Linked DNA regions of Homo sapiens: region 2 is linked to region 1. The links come from fine-mapping of genetic effects on gene expression. A gene starts in region 1. The other region holds a variant in brackets. All regions are shown on one strand. Distances are between the middles of the regions. Region 1 holds the start of METTL21A (methyltransferase 21A, HSPA lysine). Region 2 overlaps CREB1 (cAMP responsive element binding protein 1).

What was found. PIP is the estimated chance that this variant, and not a neighbour inherited with it, causes the effect.
Region 2: its variant is fine-mapped to the expression of METTL21A in whole blood (INTERVAL, PIP 0.98).

The regions. Positions count from the first base shown.
Region 1 is chr2:207,619,924-207,632,031 of GRCh38, forward strand. METTL21A (methyltransferase 21A, HSPA lysine) reads right to left here and starts at 5,471. Exons shown (of 4, transcript NM_001127395.5): 1 at 5,139-5,471; 2 at 4,306-4,481; 3 at 1,883-1,994. The coding sequence starts at 4,452. RefSeq lists a silencer at 5,067-5,666 and enhancers at 5,937-6,641, 6,642-7,344.
Region 2 is chr2:207,563,946-207,576,053 of GRCh38, forward strand. CREB1 (cAMP responsive element binding protein 1) reads left to right here. Exons shown (of 8, transcript NM_004379.5): 4 at 3,518-3,618; 5 at 6,234-6,376; 6 at 11,327-11,509. Among named protein-coding and RNA genes, the nearest start is that of CREB1, 40 kb to the left of the region's middle. The variant C/T (reference allele first, on the strand shown) is at 5,976.

The DNA.
Region 1 (12,108 bases):
GTTTAAAGGTTAAGCAACTTGCCCAAGGTCACACGACTAGTAAGAATGAAAAGAAATGTCAAAACCAAGTATAACTAAGCCTATGCACTTTGCTACACTAACATGTCTATACACCAGCCAAGAAAGTTTTGCATGAAGCCCTGGTTCTCAGGAGGAAACAGAAGAAACCTCATTTCCCCTTATAGTAACTCTTATATCAGCAGAGAGAGAAGTTGGTGTTACAGAAAAAAATAAAACAGGCCAGGCACGGTGGCTCACTCCTGTAATCCCAGCACTTTGGGAGGCCAAGGTGGGCAGATCACCTGAGGTCAGGAGTTCGAGACCAGCCTGGCCAACATGGTAAAACCCCATCTCTACCAAAAATAAAAAATTAGCTGGGCGTGGTGGCACATGCCTGTAGTCCCAGCTACTAGGGAAACTAAGGCAGGAGAATTGCTTGAACCCGGGAGGCGGAGGTTGCAGTGAGCCGAGATCATGCCACTGCACTCCAGCCTGGGCAACAGAGTGAGACTCCATCTCAAAAAATAAATAAATAAAATAAAATAAAATAAAATAAAATAAAACAACTAACTGTGTCTAACAAGCCTGGTTTTGAGTCCCAGATCTCCAGTGATCAGGACTTCAGAAAGTAGCTTCATCTCCCAGAATCCCAGCTTTGTTTGAAAAATGAAAATTAAAAATAATACCTAACATACACGGGAATGTTCTAAGGCTCACCTGAAAAGAATAAAAGGCAGTGTACCAGCAAGGGCTTCATCGATGACTTAAGTGCTGTGGTTGAAGACGGACGGAAACCTCTGTCAATTTACACAGACTTTCAACCACCACCCCTGCCCATGCTCCCTGTCGAATTTTGGAAAGCAGCAGCTAAGCAGAAAAAGAAATAGTGAAAAAGTATTGGGTTTCTGGAAAACAGGCAGGACAAAAGAGGGGCTTTAGCTGGTCCTCAAATATCTGTAGACAATGCGATGGGTTTAGAATACTCTGGAATCCTGGATCCTTCCTACCCAAGTGTAGTCTGAGAACCAGCAGTGTCGGCATCACTACTGACATTTCTACTGCTTGTTAGAAATGCAGGTTCCCAGGCCCTGGTCCAGCCCTGCCAAATCAGAATCTGCATTTTAACAAGAGCACCAGGTGACAATATGGAAGTGATAAACATTATACATTGTATCTTGAAAGCTGGTCTACCCTTATGATTAGATAGCTTGAACTATATATGTCAGAAGTTATAGAAATGAGTCAATAGTCAATAATAAAAATAACAATGAAGCCTAAAAATGCTCTAGCTCCAAGCCTCAATTAATGTGTGTATACCAAATTTTAAAATGACAAACTTTGATATCAAGTCAGAACTGTATACTGTTCATACAATTTTAAAAATAAGAAGTCAGTACAAACTATAGTGGGGGCTAGCCCTCCCTACAAGAGAAAAACCAGCAAAGTTTCCTCAGCAATGAAGAAAAGACTATCTGCTCTATCTCCCTCACAGGGTTAAATCAGATAGTGTATGGGAAAGAAAGCCCCTGAATGTGAAAAAAACTCTATACATGGGTAAGATTATTCTCCTTGAATCAACTCACTTTAAGATCGTATTATTGGCATCACAGAATTGAAGGGGGCAGAGCAATCTCCCATGGGAAGTATAAATAACAGAGTGTGTGTGTGTGTGAGAGAGAGAGACAGAAATTAGAGAGAGAGAAATTAGCCCGTTAGCCTCACTGGAGTTAAGAACCCCAGCAGTTGGCCCACAACTCATAAGTATAAGCAAAAGATAATAACCCAGTAAGGGGAAAACCCACGAAGGGTTTTGCGCTAAGAAAACAGCAAATGCACCTCTCAATGAGTTCTGCTCACTAAGGAGTCAATGCATGACACTCACCCAGCAGGGCAGCCACTATGCCCACCAGCCCCGTGCCAGCACCCAGCTCCACGGCAGAGCGGCCCCTGAGCTCCACAGCTCCCATCTCCAGGTATGTGGAAAGAACGATGGCCTGAATGAAAACACAGTGTGATGACGATTAAGGTCAACATGTGCTTGAGTAGCTGCAGGGTTTCAGGTCAGCTACACCCACCCCTCTCCCACTTCGAGGTTCAATTCCCAGCTTAACAACACACACAGGAACTTAGCTGGTGCAGCAAGGTAACCTCCCCCTTAGAGCAAGCACAGGGTCCCACAGCAGTGCCCAGAGATGATGCCCACACTAAATGGGGTCCTGCTGGATCTGGAAAGCTTAATTTTTTTTTTTTTTTTTTTTTGAGATGGAGTCTCAGTCCATCTGTCACCCAGGCTGGAGTGCAGTGGCACAATCTCAGCTCACTGCAACCTCCACCTCCCAAGCTCAAGCGATTCTCCCACCTCAGCACCCCCAGTAACTGGGACACAGGCGTGCACCACCACACCCAGCTAATTTTTGTAGTTTTTTTGGTAGAGATGGGGTTTTGCCATGTTGGCCAAGCTGGTCTTGAACTCCTGAGCTCCTGCGTCAGCTTCCCAAAGTGCTAGGATTATAGGCGTGAGCTATCACACCCAGCCTGGAAAGCTTAACTTTTTACTGTGTCACAGCACTTTTATGCTTGAAGTTTACACAACTATTCTGCAAGAACTGACATGAACAATTTCTATGATTTTGTTTAAGGGAATGCCCAGTTCCTAAACCAAACTCAGGTCAGCAAAGCCACAACTTCACCCATAGGGAAAAAGCAACACATTGCCCAAGGGTCTCTGAACTGCGTCACTGATGGTCATCGCCCCACAGGGGCCCTCACCATACGTTTTGGGCATCAGAAGGTAAGTTTTGGCCAAAGTTTTGGATACTTGATGTGTGGTTTCAACATTTGTTTATGACCCTACAGAAAGAAGTGTATAAAGCTAACATAACTTGTTACTATAATTTATTTCTCACAGCCGCATACTGTGAGTATAATTGGCAATTCCTCTTCTTGGTGAGCATTTACGAGTCTTCCCATTCCTCGTTATTATTTATCTTTTTTTTTTTTTTGAGATGTAGTCTCACTCTGTCACCCAGGATGTAGTGCAGTGGTGCAATCCCAGCTCCCTGCAACCTCTGCCTCCCAGGTTCAAGCGATTCTCCTGCCTCAGCCTTCCGAGTAGCTAGGACTACAGGTGTGCGCCACCACGGCTAATTTTTGTATTTTCAGTAGAGATGGAGTTTCGCCATGTTGGCTAGGCTGGTTTCGAACTCTTGACTTCAAGTGATCTGCCCACCTCGGCCTCCCAAACTGCTGGGATTACAGGTGTGAGCCACCACACCAGGCCTATATCTTTATTATTACCAGAGTAACTTCCATGTAGTTACCTGGACTGGATTCCTAGAAGTGGTATTACTACATTAGAATATATTGAGATTTTTATTCCTACGTGTTTAACATCCCTAACAATGTTAAAACTGTCAAACTGTATTTATGCCAATCATGCATTCAACATTAATTGAGTTCCCACTGAGTCCTAGGTGTGGGGCTAGATGCTGAGGGCTCAAGTCAGAACAGGGCAGGGAGAGGAAGAAGTTAAAAAGCAGTTACAATTTTTTAACAATTACAACTATGGAAAACTTAAAGAAAACACATAATCTCCATTTTGGGCTCTGCCACTTTACAATACTCTGTGAAATAAAGAGACTAACTCGGCTGGGCGCTGTGGCTCACGCCTGTAATCCCAGCACTTTGGGAGGCTGAGGCAGGTGGATCACTTGAGGTCAGGAGTTCCAGATCAGCCTGGCCAACATGTCGAAACCCCATCTCTACCAAAAAATACAAAAATTAACCAGGTGTGGTGGCGTGCACCTGTAGCCCCAGTTACTCCAGAGGCTGAGGTGGGAGAATCACTTGAACCCAGGAAGCGGAGGCTGCATTGAGCCAGGATCGCACCACTGCACTCCAGCCTGGGCAACAGAACGAGACTATGTCTCAAAAGAAAAAAAGACTAACTCGTGTCCAAAGCAGTTGGGGGCTTTCCTTCCTATCCTCTCCGACAAGTCATTAACTTTCCTCAGCTTTCATTTACACCTTTAAAATGTAATCTATGTGGAGGGACAAGAGGAGTGACTAAGGGATACGGGTTTGAGAGTGGCAGTGATAGTAAAACTTTTAAAATTGAAGCGGTAATAGTTGCACTACTCTGTGAATATACTGTATTTTTAAAACCGCACTGAATTGTGCACTTTAAATAGGTAAAGTGTATGCTATGTGAATTATATCTCAATAAAGCTGTTCTAAAAAAAATAAAAAATAAAAGCCAGTCTTGCAAGTGTGAACGTTTTCAGAGGTCCCCCAGGGCTTACTTACCGCATCCCAAACCACCGCTGCGACTCCCAGGTGTCTCCAGTCCTGCCGGATCTGGATCGTGTGGTTTGCAAAGGAAAAAGTTGCAAGAGGCTTGTGGAATTTCTGCAACCCAAATTCCGTGGTCTCCTCATAGGGCACGAGGGCCATTCCGCCTGCACCCCGCCCTCTGCTCAGACCTGCCGTGCAAAAGAATCCTGGGTGACGCTCTGGCCAAAAGATACATTATCTGTTCTTAACTAACTCCAAATGCTTTTAAGGTCGTTTACAAGTTCAAAAGAAAAAAAGAAACAGGTGGAGGAAGCCTTTGTCCAATTTCTTTTGCATGGCTCTTCCGAATCTGAGTGAGATTTGGCTCGGAATTTGTGTCAACGGATGTGTTTGGGGAAGAAGAAAAAAAAAGCCCAGAACATTCCAACTTCCGCAGAATACCCTATACACTGCACTGCTACCACTCCGTGAATTCAGAACTACACAAGCGGCGGAAGCGGCGGTGATCGCCCAGGGCCCCAGAGCAGCGCGGAAAGCAGCGCTTCCAACCCAGACCCGGGCGCCCGGACTGCAGCTGCAGCCAGCCGGGCGGCCCGGGTTCTTTCGCTACGGTTTCGCTACCCACCTCCCCTCCTCCATCGGCTGCTTCGATAGTGATAACAATGGGACAGAACCTGCCCTTAGACTGGGTGTTAGCGGTTTGATAAACCAGAAATACATGGTCGCCGCAGTTCCGTCTCCCCGACCCTGGAAGTGAGCGACACTGGGGGCCTCCAAGCGGCTCGCGGGGACAGCGGGGACTCGGAGGCCTCCCCGAACTCCCCCTATAGCTGCCCCCCACTCACCCCTCTCCCGGGACGACCAGTGCGCCCTTCCTGCCCGGGGGCCCCGGAGCTGCGGCAACCCTCCAGGGGTGAGAGGGAGACCAGGCGAGGGGGGTCACAGGGCCTCTTAGGATCCCCAGGCCATACGGGGCGCCGTGAGCTGCCCGGCGGAGCACCCAGGGCTCGCCCAGGCCGGGCTGAGGCGCCGCCACGCCGGTACTTACGGCCCGGGAGGCGGTCCCGCGTGGAGCGCGCGCTCCGCTTTCCCCGCCCCGGGCTGGCTGCGAAAACCGCCGGCCTTAAAGAGCCCGCGACGCGGGGGCGGGCGGCCCCGGCCCGGAGCCACGCATTTCCGGTCTCCCGGCACCCAGCCTCCGGCAGGTGCCCCCGGAGCTCACGGCGAGGGCGGGGCCGGGCCGTGGCGCGGTGGAGGAGTGACGTTGCGGGAGGGGGGACCGGGGCTTTCCCTCGTGCGTCCCCAGGGTACACGGACGACTTAATCCGTTTCCCCCGCCGCCGAGGGAGGCGCTGTGGGGGCGGGAGCAAGAGTGAGATCGGGGTGCCGAACTGCCGCGGGTGCACAGGGAGAGCATGGGGTGCCCTGGGCTCTCCTAGCGGGAGAGAAAAGCCACCCACCTGGCGCTGAATGTGCCTCTCGACCTTTTCTATCATGTGCTCCGCCGCTCTCTGCCTCTGACTTTGTCGCTTGCGCGTTGTGCCTGTTTTTTAAAGGTGGCGCGTTAGCGGATGATGGAGACAGCTCGCTCCGAAGAAGGCATGGTCACTCTAGTCCCCGCGTCTCCACGGTGGGGTCAGAAGCGGCGTAATAGCCCGCTTGGCGGCAATCGAGTGGAAAAGTCACAAAACCCTTTTCAACTAAAGCACAGTGGGGGAAGTGAACACGTGGCGCCCGAGTCCAAGTTTTTAAAGTGGGGCGGGGGTCGGCGGGCTCTGGCTGCAGTCGGAAGCGCGGAGCTCTGGGCGTGCGCTCGGCTCCAGCCCCGGCCCCAGGCGGCGCTGCAGACTCCAGTGCCCCAGTCTCCCTCCTCCCGATGCCAAGACGCACCTGCCCGTGAGGACCCACGCTGGACGTGGAAGGTGCCGAGGGCCTGGTACCCTGGCCGCAGGCCCTGGCAGAGCGCGCGGCTGGAGTGGGTCCATTGAGTGGGACCGTGCGGGGACCGGCATCCTCCCGGGGCAGGCTTCTTTTTCCTCCTGGGGCCCCTCGCCCCACACCGCCCGCTGCGCTCTCAGCGCGGCTGCACGTTAGAACCAGCTGGGGTAAACCTCCCTTACCAGTCCCCCGCCCCAAGAGCTGGCCATGGGAGGGGGCCCGAGCGCTGATTTTTTTGTTTGGTTTTTTGCTTTTGTTTTTGTTTTTGTTTTTGTTTTGAGACGGAGTCTCTCTCTGTCGCCCAGGCTGGAGTGCAAGGGCGCGAACTCGGCTCACTGCAGTCTCCGCCTTCCGGGTTCAAGCGATTCTCCTGCCTCATTCTCCCGTGTAGCTAGGATTACAGGCCTGCGCCAGCACGCCAGCTAATTTTTGTGGGATTTTGTTTGTTTGTTTGAGACGGAGTCTTGCTCTGTCGCCAGGCTGGAGTGCAGTGGCGCGATCTCGGCTCACTGCAGCCTCCACCTCCCGGGTTCAAGCAGTTCTCCTGCCTCAGCCTCCAAAGTAGCTGGAATTACAGGCGCCCGCCGCCACACCCGGCTTTTTTTGTGTTTTTAGTAGAGACGGGGCTTCACCATGTTGGCCAGGCTGGCCTTGAACTCCTGATCTCCGGTGATCCGCTCATCTCAGCCTCCCAAAATGCGGGATTACAGGTGTGAACCACTGCCACCTCCCCCACCCCTACCGCCCGAGCGCTGATTTTTTTTTTTTATTATTATTATTCAGAGTTTCGCTCTTGTCACCCAGGGTGGAGTGCAATGGCATGATCTCGGCTCACTGCAACCTCCGCCTCCCAGGTTCAAGGGATTCTCCTGCCTCAGCCTCCAAGTAGCTTAGATTAAGGGGCCCACCACCACGACTGGCTAATTTTTGTATTTTTAGTAGAGACGGGGGTTTCACCACGTTGGCCAGACTGGTCTCGAACTCATGACTAAAGGTGATCCACCCGCCTCGGCCTCGCAAAGTGCTGGGATCACAGGCATGAGCCACCGCGCCCGGCAAGCGCTGATATTTTTAAGAGCTCCCGGGGCCGCCCCCGGGAGCCTGCTTCCCGCGGTGGGAGCCTGGCGGGGGCCTGAACCTCTCTCTCCTGGCCTCTTCCGTCCTGTAGGCGGCGTCCCCGGCCTCCAGATTAATCTTCCATCGGAAGGTGGGGCCTGTGGCTTCGAGGGTAACCTCAGGGAACTTGGAAGACCACCAGTGAGGGACTTTTACCTCCTTTTTCGTTTTCTTTTTTGGTCCTCTCGCTTTCTCTCTTAGTATTTCCTTTCTCTCTTACCTCCTGCACTTGGTGTTTCTGCCTCTCAGCTTTCCCTTTATCGAAGACCTCCCTTTCTTGCCTTTATTTTCTCTCTGTCCCTTTTTGCAGGGAGAACCAGCAATGGGCACAAGAAAGAACATGTATGGGCTTTGGGGCCAGACAAATATGGAAAATTTAAATTATTCCTCTGACTCTTTAAATGGGATGACTTTGGGAAATTACTAAACCTCGCTAGATCCCAGGCTGCTCATCCCTGAAGCCTGGCATGGAGCCTTGGGCCCCTTCTGTTTTTTCTCCCTATTCTCCATCCTTTCTGCTGAAATCAAGCATATGACCTCAAAAAACAAAGCAAAACCTTCCCCACCTCTCCAGCACTCTAACATGGAACATGTGCCTCATTATATTATGAGTTTTCTAGGAAGGTGTCATTTACTTTTTCTCAACCGTCTTGTCCTCCCAATGTTCTAAGCTGTATCAGATGGCTCAGGAAGCACCAAAAGGAATATTGAGGAACATATGCAACTCGTATAGCAGTGTAGCCATTAAGCAGAGCTCTGTTTTTATCAAAATAAGCCAGTGGTCCACTGAATATTTGAAAATACATTTTTAATCCTAAAAACAAGTTGGTGTGTGGCAGACTACATATTGTTTGGAGTAGTCGGCCAAGTGTGGTGGCTCACGCCTGTAATCCTAACACTTTGGGAGGCCAGGGTGGGAGGATCACTTGAGCCCAGGAGTTCAAGATCAGCCTGGCCAACATAGTAAGACCCCATGTCTAAAAAAATTTTTTTAAAGGCCAGGTGCAGTGGCTCACACCTGTAATCCCAGCACTTTGGGAGGCTGAGGCGGGTGGATTACAAGGTCAGAAGATCGAGACCATCCTGGCTAACACGGTGAAACCCCATGTCTACTAAAAATACTAAAAATTAGCCGGGCATGGTGGTGGACACCTGTAGTCCCAGCTACTCAGGAGGCTGAGGCAGAAGAATGGCGTGAACCCAGGAGGCAGAGCTTGCAGTGAGCTGAGATTGCACCACTGCACTCCAGCCTGGGTGACAGAGCGAGACTCTGTCTCAAAAAAAAAAAAATTTAAAAAAAAAAATAGCCGAGCATGGTGGTGCACACCTATAGTCCCAGCTACGTGGGAGGTTGAGGTGGGAGGATCATGTGAGCCCAGAGGTGGAGGCTTCAGTGAGTCCTGAAGTCACACCACTGCACTGTATCCTGGGTGACACAGCAAGACCCTGTCTCAAAAAAAAAAAAAAAGAAATTCTGACAGTCTTTTTTTTTTTTTTTTTTTTTGACACAGAGTCTTCTCACTCTGTCACCCAGGCTGGAGTGCAGTGGTGCAATCATGGCTCACTGCAGCCTGGACCTCTTGGGTTCAGGCATCCTCCCACCTCAGCCTCCTAAGTAGCTGGGACTACAGGTGTGTGCCACCACACCCAGCTAATTTTATTTTTTGTATAGAGAGAGTCTTGACATAGAGTCTTGACATGATGCCCAGGCTGGACTTGAACTCCTAGCCTCAAGTGATCCCCCCACCTCCTTCTTCAGCCTCCCAAAGTGCTGGGATTACAGGCGGGAGCCACTGAGCCTGGCCTCTCCTGACAGTCTTGTTAGGAATATGCAAAAAGATAGATTTACTTCCCGCATTGTTTGTAATTCCGAAGTGCAGTTTAATCGTAGTGTTAACAGTGTATAAAATAGTGCTTTAGCTGGGCGAGGTGGCTCACGCCTGTAATCCTAGCACTTTAGGAGGCCGAGGCGGACGGATCACCTGAGGTCAGGAGTTCGAGACCAGCCTGACCAACATGGAGAAACCCCATCTCTACCAAAAATACAAAATTAGTCTGGCATGATGGCGCATGCCTGTAATCCCAGCTACTCGGGAGGCTGAGGCAGGAGAATCTCTTGAACCCAGTAGGCAGAGGTTGCAGTGAGCCAAGATCACGCCATTGCACTCCAGCCTGGGCAACGAGTGAAACTCTGTCTCAAAAAAAAAAAAAATAGTGCTTTTTACTTTTATCTGAATGATTGAAATGTCCTTTTCCCAATCCTATGATGCCTGACTGCAAAATAATGGTAGAAGGACACTTAGGCCTTTGTCCCTCCTGTCTCCTGGAACTAGTCCATGTCCAAGGTCATAGTAGAAGCAGTCACCTTGCTACTACCTTGGCACAGCTTGATCCCTATGTTCCCCCAGGCATGTTCCCTTTTTAGGCCAGGGTGGATACCCAACCCCACGCTGGGTACATAATTCTCTCTGCAGAAAGAATGCAGAGTGACTATCAGACATCTGTTGTTACTGCCTGCCCAACATCTATTTCTCATTTTCCTGGTAGCAGCAGTTCTCTTCTGCTGATGGTCAGGAGCCCAGCTTCTGGAGTGCAAGTTCTGCACCAACTCAGCTCTGCAATTTATTAGCTGTGAGGGCTTGGGTGAAATGCATTAACCTGTGTCTCAATGTCCTCATCTATAAAATAGGGATAATGTGATTATTGTATGAGTAAACAACAAAGATAACCTGAGATTAAAATGAGTTAACTTATCTACTTAGAATTGCGCCCAACAAACACATTTTATAGAGCATTTGCTTATACTGTTATGTGTTTGGACTGGTCTATCCTCAGCCCTTACTACATGATCAGGCACATGCCCCAGGCCTGGCCAATATGAACACAGTCCTTCCACCTGGCCACAGGTAGGTGAGATGTGAACATGTAACCAAAGCTGGGCCTAACCAGAACCCATTCTGAGACTTGAGACTCTCAGAGAACCAGCCTGTTGGGGAAGGATAGAAATTTAGAGGTCCTATTGGCCATCTGGTCCCAAGAGAACAAAACTAGCAGCAAATGTGGCCAGTGAAGGCGCTGGTGGAGAGAGAGGCTGCCTCCTGTTGATGTTTGACCACCTGGATCCAGCTGTCCTGGAATTTTCAGTTATTTGAGCCATTAAATTCCCTAATTAGCTTAAGCTGTCATTTGAGCAGCTTTTTTTTTTTTTTTCCATATCCTGAAGAAGAAAAACAATCCTAATACATTCAGTCTGGGCCGGTCCCTTGAGCAAAGGAGAGATATAAAGCCATGCCTGTATGGGGCCATCTTCACTGTGCGGTATAGATGGAGAAACCATTCTACAGAGAGCAGTCACCAGCAGAAACTTGGGGCTGAGCTGCCAGCTGCCGTTTTCCTGATGCCTCTCTTGTCCTGAGCCCTTCCTGGCTGCACCTGGGTTCTCAGGTCCCATGGGAACCCAGGGTAACCAGACAAGACATTTTCCTTTCTTGATTAAGCTCGCTGGAGTGCCTGTGACATACATACAGCCAGAGTCCCAGTGAAAAGGATGTTTTTTGTTTTTAGGAAGTGATGTAGACAGAATATAAACATTCTGTAAGTTCCTCAGACCTATTCAATGTTATAATATAGGTAGTATTAAAAGTGTTCTTCAAAAAATTTAAAGAAATTGAGGCCAGGCGCGGTGGCTCACGCCTGTAATCCCAGCACTTTGGGAGGCTGAGGCGGGCGGATCACGAGGTCAGGAGATCGAGACCATCCTGGCTAAAACGGTGAAACCCCATCTCTACTAAAAATACAAAAAATTAGCCGGGCATGGTGGCGGGCGCCTGTGGTTCCAGCTAGTCGGGAGTATGGGGCAGGAGAATGGCATGAACCCGGGAGGCAGAGCTTGCAGTGAGCCGAGATCGCGCCACTGCACACCAGCCTGGGCGACAGAGTGAGACTCCGTCTCAAAAAAAAAAAAAAAAAGGGAAAAAGAAATTGAAGACCAGGCACTATGACTCACGTCTGTAATCCCAGCACTTTGGGAGGCTGAGGCAGGTGGATCACCTGAGGTCAGGAGTTCGAGACCAGCCTGGCCAACATGGTGAAACCCCATCTCTACTGAAAATGCAAAGAATAACCGGTCGTGGTGGTGCACCACTGTAATCCCAGCTACTCAGGATGCTGAGGTAGAAGAATTGCTTCAACCCGGGAGGCGGAGAATGCAGTGAGCCGAGATTGCACCCTCGCACGCCATCTTGGGCAGCAGAGCAAGACCTCATCTCAAAAAAAAAAAAAAAAAAGAAATTGAGACAGAATTTTTAAAGATTTTTTTTTCTTTTTAGAGATGGTGTCTCACTGTGTTGCCCAGGCTGGTCTTGAATTCCTACACTCAAGTGATCCACCCACCTCAGCCTCCCAAAGCACAAGCACGAGCCACCGTGCCTAGCCTAAAATATTTTTTTTTTTTAACTGAGATCCTTAATTGCTGTACACTAGAGATTAAACTGATAGCAGAAAACACATTTCCTTGCACTGTCTAACCCAGCAGCAGTTCTCACATTTTTTGGTCTCAGGATCTATTACACTCCTTAAAATTATTAAGGACTCCCAAGAACCATTCATATTTATTGTGTTAGAAATGTTAAGTTTTAAGAAGTTAAAACTTAAAATAATAAACTATTTGTTATTTTATGTAAAGGTAGCAGCCATACCTCCATTATGGATTAACATCACAGCAGTGACATCCTCACATATCAGGGAACCCCTGGAAAACTT
Region 2 (12,108 bases), 56 kb before region 1:
AAAATAAAAGTGTTAAATGATTTTTAATGAAGCATATTATGTCATTCTCACTATCCTGAAAAATAATATTATTTATCTTTAAGAAATATATAAATTTTTAATATTTATGCTTATCATATCTCTTTAAGAACTCTTGTTTTATAATACGAATACTTAAAATTTAGAAATAAGAAAAATGTATGCCTGTGTAAAATTTTTCTTATTTATAAGAGATACATGCAGATCAAAAGAGTTGGAAGATCATTGATCTAGACTTTCAGTAAGCTTCTTGATCCAATGAGTAAAACACTGTATCTAAGGCCAGGTGCAGTGGCCTATAATCCCAGCCCAGGCAGGAGGATTGCTTAAAGCCAGGAGTTCAAGACCAGCCTGGGCAACATAGCAAGACCCTGTCTCTACAAAAAAATTAAAAATTAGCTGGGAGTGGTAGTGCATGCCTGCAATCCCAGCTAACTCAGGAGGTTGAGTCTGGAGGATCCCTTGAGCCCATGAGTTTGAGGCTGCAGTGGGCTGTGATCGCACCACTGCACTCCAGCCTCGGTGAGTGAGTGAGATCCTGTCTCTTAAAAAAAAAAAATCTTAAAAAAAAAATATATATCCAAACCATGAGTCTCAACTCTACCGAGGGATAGTACTTAAGTTTCCAAAGGACCATATATAGGTTTAGGAAACATCGAATATTACCATTGTTTTGATTGGTTCTAGTTACTTTATAGTTTATTTTAAAATTTCAAATAATCGAAACGGGGTCCTCCACCTTTCCAATATAAACAGGTAGTATGGGTTTTAAATAAACCAAAGTTGAGAAATACAGACCTAAAACTTTATATCTACAAGTGGTAGTTTAGCTTTTTGAAAATTTCTTGACTTACAAGTGGCCAAAATTAAAGACCTATTTAAGGAATTCAGAAAGAAGTTAATAAGTGATAGGAGATGAGAATAAAAGGAAGGGGTTCCATCATTGGAATGTGATGATGATACGTGATGTTTATAATTGGGATATAATTTTTCATATGATGTTTTTATTCTGTTATTTATAAAAATAGATTTTTGACATGATTTTTATTGATCTCAGTTATGTGGGTCCAGTATGTTTTTTTTTTTTTAACATCAGTTTTAGGTTCACAGCAAAATTGAGAGGAAGCTACAGAGATTACCTGTATACTCCCTCCCCAACTCCATGGATAGCTTCCCCTGTTCTTAACATCCTCCCCCAGAACGGTACATTTATGTTATAATTTGATGACCCTACATTAACACATCATAATTACCCAGAGTCCATAGTTTACATTAAACTTCATTCTTGGCTTGGTATATTCTGTGGCAGTATTTTTATTATTGATTAAGTGATAGATCAGGGACTCCATAGGAATTAGCTTCATGGCTTACTTCTCTTCAGATGGTATTCCCAAAGAGGAAGTGTTGTGTTTATTTCAGTGGTCTGAATTCTCTTTACATTTACAAAGTTGCAAGCACTAAATAGTGATAAGTTAATTCCTTCTGTGTGAATTGACAAAATCTTACAGGTCAGAGAAAGGCAACCTTTTTTTTTTTTTTCATTAAGGGCCATAGATCCAGAGTTAGAAAAAAAAAGGACACAGATTAAAAAACAACATTAATTTGTTTCATTTCAAAACTATCCTGTGGGTAGTTTATATGGCATGTTTTAATGTTGTTGTTTTAGTGAGTTCCAACTTGGAAGGGGGGTGTTCCCTAATCACTATATGTCCTTAAGAGAAGCATGTAAGGATGGGGCATATGAGAGTCAAGCAGTGGACACAGAAAGAGCCACAGAGGAGCTAAGTGAATTCTGAGTGGCGTATTAATGAAGGGAAACAACACTTGTCACAGTACTATCAACTTTGAGTTCAGTCTTGTTATTCCTTGAATTTCTGATCCTTTCCTCAGGCCTTTTCATAGCTCCTGATCTTCTGTATGTGAGAAAGTTTGTGCAGAGACTCTTGTGTGTGGGCTAGTTACAGCAGCTACTGATTAACGTGAAACTTTTCTGTGTGCTTCTTTGGCAGTAATTACAGCATTATTATTCTGCTGAGAATCACAGACTAAATTCAGCATTACTCATCTTTTTATCTGTCATTTGTGAATTCATTATATGTTGCCTATTGATTTTTAGGTCTTTCAGATTGTACTTAGACTTTAAAGTGTTTGGATGGGGCAAATTACTTCATTATAAATATATTTTACTACAAGTTACTAACTTTACCTGGTTTCATTTTAAATGAGCATGCATATCACAAAGCCCTGTAAAATGAATGCCCACTTGGGAGAACTGTTAGGCTCAGACCACACATAGAGTACGCTTGGAATTTCTCAAGTACTTCTGAATATGTTTTCTTACTGCCATTGCCATACGTTTTGACGTGGAGCTGACCTACATAGACCCTTTTGTCTTGGTTAAGTATAATTCTTACTCTGACCGCATAATGTGCCCCTAGTTCAGGAAAGAGCATAACGTTTCTGCTGATTAGAGAAACTTGGGCAGTGTAAATTTGACAATCAAGCATACTTAGGTAAGTGAACTCTTCTAGTCTAGAAAAGGTGTGAAAATGCCACTGGTTGCTGCTTCTGACAAACCTGGTTTGAGACTATAACAGTCTGGTTTGAGACTGGAACCACCAGGATTTTGATGCTGGTAAGGATGTCTAAAATGGAGGTTAATGACAGTGGCTCCACTACTTCCTAGCTTTGTGACTCGGGTGAGTTACTTCTTTGTGCCTTAGTTCTTCCATCTATGGAATGGATATAATAGTATAGTACCCATCTGGCGCCTACATTACTGTGAGTATTAAGTAATGTAGTATATGTAAATGCATTAGCATAACACCTGGCACATAGGCATCTGTAAATTCTAGTTTCTATCATTAATATCCCATGTAAATTTTTTATTCACTTATCTTCATTACTTTTCAGTCTAGGTATTCTTATCAGAAAAGCATAGTTCTTTACCTTGAATTTTTACTTAAAAGTGATTATAGAATGCTAACTTTGAAACATGTTAGGAGTTTTTCCTAACTTGCTAGGAACAACTGTCAGGGATGTCATGATGGATCGCCAGTCTTACTGTACAACTGTAAATATATTCATAAGTGTTTATACAGTTAAATAATAATATTTGTATAGTCACTATATAGACTTAGGACCAAATATTTAGCCATCCATTTTATCCTTTATATCAGAAACCTTATTTTAGTTGGTAGTTTTGTTCCAACAGATGTAAGAAAAAACTGATAAGTAATACTGATGCATTCAGGATTGATTACATGGAGTCCTGAAAAAAAAATTAAACTGCAGCTATTTTAGGTTCTCTAACTTCATCGTAGTTTATAGGGTAAGTAAAGGGAAGGGGAAAGTGATTGGTGTGGTTGTCTCCCATAAGAACTGATTTTTTTCTACTGAAGCATGTATAAAGTTTATATATGACTTTTTATATTTGTTTAATAAAAATTTTACAGGAACTAAATTTGATTATCAATATGAAGTTTTTCTTTAATTTCAGATTTCAACTATTGCAGAAAGTGAAGATTCACAGGAGTCAGTGGATAGTGTAACTGATTCCCAAAAGCGAAGGGAAATTCTTTCAAGGAGGCCTTCCTACAGGTATGGAATTTAATAGTTAGAATCAAAGATGTGGAGGAAGTCTTAGGTAGTTGCAGATAAAGAGATGTCAGAAGACCAGTTAGTTGTTCACGTCAGTTCCTTATAGATTACTTTTCTTCATCTTGAGTTATTTGTCTCAAATAAAGTGGAAGCTTATCCTACAGAATAAGAAGAGCACTTGTTACTCTCACCAGTCCTAATTTTTTTTTTTTCTGTTTCTGTTTCTGTAGACTGTGCTGGCTGTCTTTCTGTTAAAAGTTTGGAATACAGTTGATAAGGTTATAGCATTTTTTAGTTATAAGCCAACTCTGAGGCTCTGTTATTTATCTACTTAGTAACACATTGCAAACCATTTTTTATGCCATGGTACTTAACAGATAGCTATTAATTTAATAATTGTCTCAGGGAGATGCTTTACTAACATCCCCTAATTTTAGCAGTAGCTTACTGTAATTTTTGTGTTCAGTTATAGATGTTGCCTAGTCCATGCCTTGCCTCCAAGGTGAACCAAAACCATTTTTTAATGTAAAAATTAGCTCCACATTAAATATCTTCAGGAAGGGCAGTTCCATAAATCTTGATAAGTTTACTTCAGCATTGAAGAAACTTCAGACTCATAATTATCTTCCTTGTTAGTGTAAATTATTTTTTATATATTCCTATTTTTCAAAGGGATGGTTTTTTCCCCCCGCTTGGCTATTAAACTAACCCTTTTCTCTGTCCTTACAATTAAATTAAGAATCCTAAGTGACTAGCAATAAATAGATTTTGAGGTCTAAGAAATTTTATATTACCAGTTTATGTTATATGTATTTATATTCATAATTTATTTTAAGTATAGCTAGTGTTAGATTTTAACTTTGAAGTATATCTCCTGTTAGTATATAACACATTTGATCCTGAAGCAAATCCAACCAAATACTACTAGTAAAGTAATTACACAGGTAAATATAAAAGCCAGGATTATTATAGTTTTGGTTTGTAACTCCTTTTTTTCCTATGTGATTGGAAAGACAAAGGCATAGAACAATAACTATAAATTTATGTGACTAAGCACATGATATATGAAGATGTCATTTTTGACAATAGCATAAAGGGACAGAGTTTATAACTAGTTTGTTACAAATTTAAGATATCAAAAATTACTTGGGTTAGGGTTTTTAGGGGTTTTTTCCCACCTTTCAGTGTGATTATGTTATTCATTTGAAATATGGTATGGTTCCTTTGTTTTTGGGTTCCATTTTAGAGTTTCTCCACCCATCCTTGTTGATCTTTATTTTTTTTTCTAGTAAGTGAAACATTTAACACTGTACCAAAAGTCAGAATTGCACAAAAAAAGTATACTCAGTAGTGCCTCCCCATTCCTTCTGTCGTTTTCATTTCTTTCCTACCCATCCCCAGTAAATAGCTAAAACCATTACTCTCTCGTTTATCCATCCTGATTTTTTTCCTTGAACAAATGAGCAGATACATGTCTGTTTTCATATTTCCCTTTTTTCCTTACACAAAAGATATGCTGTATCCATTATTTGGATGTACCATAGTTGATTCAACCACTTGCCTTTATATGGGCATATAGATTGTTTCCAGTATTTTTTTTCCTTTTTATTTGTTTTTCTATTTTAGACCTTGGATATATGGCTCCAGTATTTTGCAGTTACAAACAGTGCCAATGGGAATAATCTTAAGCGAGTTTATTTTAATATTGTTGGAATTGGGGTGAATTCCTGGAAATGGGATTGAGGCACGAACACCCATATTTCCTTAAATATCAACAATTCCTTATATCGGGATTGTGCCAGTTTTATACTCCCAGCAGCAATGTATGAGAGTGTGGTGTTTTTTGTTTTTGTTTTTGTTTTTTTTGTAGCTTTGCTAACAGATTTTGTTAACACTTTTTTGTTTCCCAATCTGAGAAGTGAGAATTTAAAAATCAGGTTTTGATCTTTTTTCCCTTTAGTTGATTGTTGACTTTTTACTTTCCGACTTTGTGTATGTGTTCTTTGAGATGCAAAAGATTTTTTTTAATGTAGTCAGTCTTATTATTACCCTTAATTGCACCCTTCCTTACATTGAGGTTAAAGATAATACATCTTTTTTTTTGTTTTTGTACATATTTGGGTTCCTTTTGACATCTAGATCAATCCCTGACCCATGAAGAGTTTATTCATGTAATTTATATATTTTAAACTTCTGCTGGCTGGGTGCAGTGGCTCACACCTGTAATCCCAGCACTTCGGGAGGCCAAGGCGGGTGGATCACATGAGGTCAGGAGTTCGAGACCATCCTGGCCAACATGGTGAAACCCCATCTACTAAAAATACCAAAAAAATTAGCCAGGCGTGGTGGCAGGCGCC[C/T]GTAGTCCCACCTACTCTGGAGGCTGTTGCAGAATTGCTTGAACCCGGGAGGCGGAGGTTGCAGTGAACCAAGATCGCGCCACTGCACTCCAGCCTGGCGACAGAGCAAGACTCCATCTCAAAAAAAAAAAAAAAAAAAAAACCTTCTGTCCTAAGCACTAGCAGCTTTCTGTGAGTTTTCTCATCTTTAACTATATTTGTATTTAGCCAGTAAATTGTACTTATATTTTTAATTATTCTAGTTTTCTAATTTTGTAGGAAAATTTTGAATGACTTATCTTCTGATGCACCAGGAGTGCCAAGGATTGAAGAAGAGAAGTCTGAAGAGGAGACTTCAGCACCTGCCATCACCACTGTAACGGTGCCAACTCCAATTTACCAAACTAGCAGTGGACAGTATAGTGAGTAATAGACAATTTCTGTTTCTATTGTGAGGAGAAAAAAGTGAGGAGAAAAAGCTAATAGTTGCATTCTCTTCAGAGAAACCAATACAAGTGCCAAGTCTTCTCAGTTTTGCTGCCATTATTATATTTCCTTTACTCTTCACTATGCAAAGGTCTGTAATGGTAGTATTTTCTTTTCTTCAGAGAGTTTTAGTTAGGATTAGTCAAGTGTATAAACCTTTTAGATGTCCTTTTGTTTTTGTGCAGATGCATGGAAAGTCTGAAGTTTTTGAACCACTAATTGAGACCCTAGGTTTGAGGCCTCATGTGTTGAGAGAACATAAGTTTTTTAGATTAAAAAAAATCATTCCTTGAATATATCTCGGTATTCATTTTAATAGTTTGTCTTGCCTTCTGAAAGTAGCATTTTAATGTCTTCGTATTTAATAATGTTTCAAGTGGGGATAAGCATGGCTTGGTTGAGTCAGCACATTCAATTATTCCTTTTCATATGAAAGATAGTAATATACTTTTTGGCCCACATAAAGCAAAAATTGCTCTTACAAAATTATTTAAAAGTTTTCATTTCTATGATGTCTCTGTCTGGCACTTAGGTCTGTCTTCTTATCTTTCACCAAAATCTGTTATAAGACACTTTTGAATTTTATTTTGTTTGATCAAAAGCATTTGTGTGAATGGTACTTTTTTCTCTTTTTCCCTTTTTTTTTTTTGCCTCTCAAAGTGCTTTATTCATTCAGTGATTTTTTTCATTTGTATTTGTTTATTAAACCTGGTGCTGCCCATTTATACCCTTTTCCCCACCCACCTTAGTTTCAAATTAAATGTACACATTGAAACTTCTTTACTGAGATAGTTTCCTAATCCCTGAGGGAATCTGTATCAGAAATATGCATAAAAGTTTGAGGCCAGGCACAGTGGCTCATGCCTGTATTCCCAGCACTTTGGGAAGCCAAAGTGGAAGGATCACTTGAGCCATCCAGGAGTTTAAGACCCCATCCCTATTTATAAAAATAATTTAAAAATTAAGAAATATGCATGAAAGTTTGACCCCCATGTTATTTTTTAGTTCCAGTTCAACTTTGTTTTGCGTAACTCTAATTTGCATTCCCATCTGTATTAAAGACAAGTTCTCAAGTAGCAAACTTTTTAACTCTGCCAAGGCTGAAACTTTTGAGACTAAGTAGAAGGAAGGCATTTTTGACTAAGGTTTTTATCCACTGTGCTCAATTAGCTTAGTCATCTTTTTTCTTCTTAAGATCTTTGTGGCAGATATAAAGTACAACTCTTTACCTACAATTCTGTACGTGTATGTGTATTATCAGTTGAAGCCTCATACCAGATGCTTTTAGTTATTCAAGATATGTGTTCGAAGACATTGATACATGATGTTTATTTTTCTTCTACTTCAGCATACCTGAGGGATACAACATACTCCTGTCAGTAACAGATTCACTGTTACAGAGATTCTCACTTGAACTAGGAAGCATGCTCTTTAGGAAAGAGGCCTATCAGAATCTAAAAAGGGGAAATGAAGGTTAGAAAAGTACCAGCACCCCCATAGATGTTTAATTTGGTACACTCGTCTCCTCCAGCAGCTGAAAATTGCTAGTTTTAAGAGATTGAGCCAGGCGCCGTGGCTCTCGCCTGTAATCCCAGCACGCTGGGAGGCCAAGGTGGTGGATCATGAGGTCAGGAGTTCAAGACCAGCCTGCCCAACATGGTGAAACCCTGCCTCCACTAAAAATACAAAAATTAGCCGGGCATAGTGGCGGACGCCTGTAATCCCAGCTACTCGGGAGGCTGAGACAGGAGAATTGCTTGAACCCAGGAGGCGGAGCTGGCAGTGAGCTGAGATCACACCACTGCACTCCAGCCTGGGTGGCAGAGCAAGATTCCGTCTCAAAAAAAAAAAAAAAAAAGAGAGATTAATACTTTGAAATTTTTAAAGCTTTGTTCATTATTTTTATCCTGTGTCCTCTCTGTATATGTACACATGGCTTTGGCTTTGATGGAACTGATTTAACATTATATTCTTGATTTTCATTAAGAGCAATATAATAAATACATATACAGCAACATTTATATTTCTTAACTTATAAAATGAACATATGGTTGTCAGAATTCACCATAGATATATAAACACACATAGTTATATATTTTGTTTAATAGCTGCATTGTGTTTCACTGTGTAAATACAGCACTTATTTAAACATTCTCCTGCTGATGAACATTTAGGACATTTCTATTGTTTCAAACAGTGCTACATAAATATCCTAAGAGTGGAATTATCGACCATCCTGGCTAACACGGTGAAAACCCGTCTCTACTAAAAATACAAAAAATTAGCCGAGCGAGGTGGCGGGCACCTGTAGTCCCAGCTACTCGGGAGGCTGAGGCAGGAGAATGGTGTGAACCCAGAGGGCGGAGCCTGCAGTGAGCCGAGATAGCGCCACTGCATTCCAGCCTGGGCAACAGCGAGACTCCATCTCAAAAAAAAAAAAAAGAGTGGAATTATCAAATTAAAGCATATCCTCCGCAAGTACCCTTCCAGGTGGAGGCATGAATTTCCACTCCTTCCTTAAATTGGTTATTTTATTAAATTCATGCTGTTACTAGATTTATCTGTTACTTATTAGTTCAGTGTCCCAGATAGTAAAATCTTATTAGTGATTCTGCTCTTAGATAGAAAATGTGTATCTGTCATTTTGAACTTGAATTTTTTTGTTTCAGTAAATAAAACTATGACTCATGATGTTTCCCTCTTTATTCTGGCAACTCAGATTCTTAGCTAACTTTCTGTTTAATTGTATTCTTTTCTTAGTCTAGATTTTCTTCTACAATTGTTTTATATAACTAAGGATACATCCGTTACTTGACTTCTGTCTTTTTATTTTTGTTTTAATGAATTGTGTTTTATTGAAAGCTATCTCAAATCTTTTTGGAATAATAAAGTGTATACATAAACATTATAGAGAAAAACTGTGTTCAGTAGGATTAGACTTCAGTTTCCAAAGTATTTTCATATACATGACCTCATTTGATATTTACAACAATTGTACTTAGTGGCTAGAACCCAGATGCTTTTGTTTTTAGAGAAGAGAGAACAGAATCAAATAACAGTTTAGTGATGGCTGGGCACAGTGGCTCACGTCTGTGATCCCAACACTTGGGGAGGCCAAAGTGGGAGGACTGCTTGAGGCCAGGAGTTCAAGATCAGCCTGGGCAACATAGCAAAACCCTGTCTCTACAAAAAAATGTCTTTAGAAAATTAGTAGGGCCTGATGTCCTGTGCTAGCTACTTGGGAGGCTGAGGCAGGAGGATCACTTGAGCCCACCAGTTGGAGGCTACAGTGAGCTGTGATCTTGCCACTGCACTCCAGCCTGGAAGACAGAACAAGACCCTGTCTCAAAAGAAAAAAATTAAAACAAAAAACTGTTCAGTGATGGAACTCAAACTACAACCCAGTCTTGTCATATATGGTTTACTATTTCTTTCTTCTTCCCACCTTGAATTCACTGCTCTGTAGCCAAGAAGAAAGTGGTATGTTAAATACAGTAGGATTCACTCATTAACTCTAAATGAGAAATTGTGATTTGTTTCTGTTAACCTTCTGATTCTTTCAAGTAATCATGCAAAATTAATCTTAGAATAGTTCTTACTCATTTTTCTCCCTGCCTAAGATAAGTAAAACTTCTGGGATTAGCTAAACTAGATCCAGTGTATATGCCAGCATTTTAATTTTCACAAGTGTCATTTTGCTAAACTAATCACACTGTAGCCATTAACTCTTCTTACTTCTTGATGAGGCAGTAATCAATTTTCCATGTACAGATGTCTCAGGATGTTATTTCCCATAGCTGGTGGATAACTGATCCCAAACTAATTCCCTTCTAATGGACAGTAACATGCTTAATCAGACATGTTGACTTTCCTGCATTGTTTACTTTTTTCTTACTCAGTTAAAATCAGTTTTGTAGTTTTATATGTGATATTGTGATTTTTGGTCCTTCTCTTTCTGAAAAGCTTGACCCCTACAGGGAGAATTGTCTAGAGAGGATATTGCCACCTATCTAAAAATGCTTCTTCCAAATAAATCATCTAATTTTTAAATTAAATTTTTCTATGTACTGTAGCATAAAGGTGATTTAGTTTTTCATAAAGTGAAATATCTACTAGTATGAGCAAAAGTTGACTGATTTATTGTTTAACAAATGAATGACAGGTGTGGCTAATTAGGGCATAAACAACAAAGGGTTCTATATGAGAATGCTTGGATATGTATTAAATAATTTAGAAATGACAGTTAAAGTTTTTTTTCTAAATGATGATCTTGAGCTCTGATTTTAAAATTCCATGAGAGACTGTTGATAATTAAGTTCCATAGGATATTTCAGTTGTTTCATTGAGTGGATTAGATACCATTAAAGAATTTCTACAAGAGTTAGGGAATACAATGCACTGATGAACTGCTTTATTAGTTATATGTTAAAACAACCATTTATTGGGTGCCTATTTCATGGCTGCCACTGTGCTAAGTGTATGAAAGTATATAAGAAAATTCCTACTCTCCAGAAATTTATTTACTAGTGGGACAAGTATTAATACATTATGCAGTTAATGCTAAAATAAAAGAAAGGATCACAGAGTGGAACCTCTTCAGAACCAAATAACTTCAGAAGGAATTTAACATTTTTCCACTTAAAAAAATTGTTAACAGGCATTATTATTATAAATTAGAATGCAGTTCATAGAGTGCATTTCTATTGTAGAAGTTGAATATGGGTTTCCTGAGGAGCAAGTTACTTGAATATATTAGACCCTTCTTGGTGATGTTATTTGCTGTAACTTCTCCTAGATTATTTTACAAATTATTCTACATTGGATGTAATGTTTTAAAAGTCTTATATGGTATTAAACTTGTAACAATAAAATCCATTGGCTTTTAGTTGCCATTACCCAGGGAGGAGCAATACAGCTGGCTAACAATGGTACCGATGGGGTACAGGGCCTGCAAACATTAACCATGACCAATGCAGCAGCCACTCAGCCGGGTACTACCATTCTACAGTATGCACAGACCACTGATGGACAGCAGATCTTAGTGCCCAGCAACCAAGTTGTTGTTCAAGGTAAGGGAATTCAGAATTCACAGGTGTGGTAAATTCTTCAAAATACTAAAATTTTATAAACTCACAGAAAAAGTAAGTATCATATTGCAAACCACCATTCAAATGTAGTTAACATTTCTTCAATATTGATAGTATTTTTCATGAACTCTTCCATTATTCCAATTGGACCAAAATGTCATGGCATAAAAACAACTATTTTCAGTTTTTAAAATATTGCATCTACCTTTAACATCTTTTGGGGTAGAAGAAACAGGATAGGTTAGAAGGAAAGACCAGGAAATCAGGAGTTAGAAAAGATGGATTCTGTATCTAACTGCATGGATCTGCTATGAGGCCTTGAGTAAAAGTCAGCTGCTCTGAGCCTCAGGAAAGTGTTTTGTTTTTTGTTGTTGTTGTTTTTGTTTTTTCATCTGTAAAATAAGAGTTGCACTGAATCTCTGGAAACAATCTTCAGAAGTTCAGGATTCTGTTTCTCTGCTTCCCCCCCCCCCCCCAAAAGAAATTTAAATCTTCTGAGATCATCAGTTTTTATTATTATTATTATTATTTTTTTCTAGAGACATGGTCTCACTGTGTTGCCCAGGCTAGTCTTGAACTCC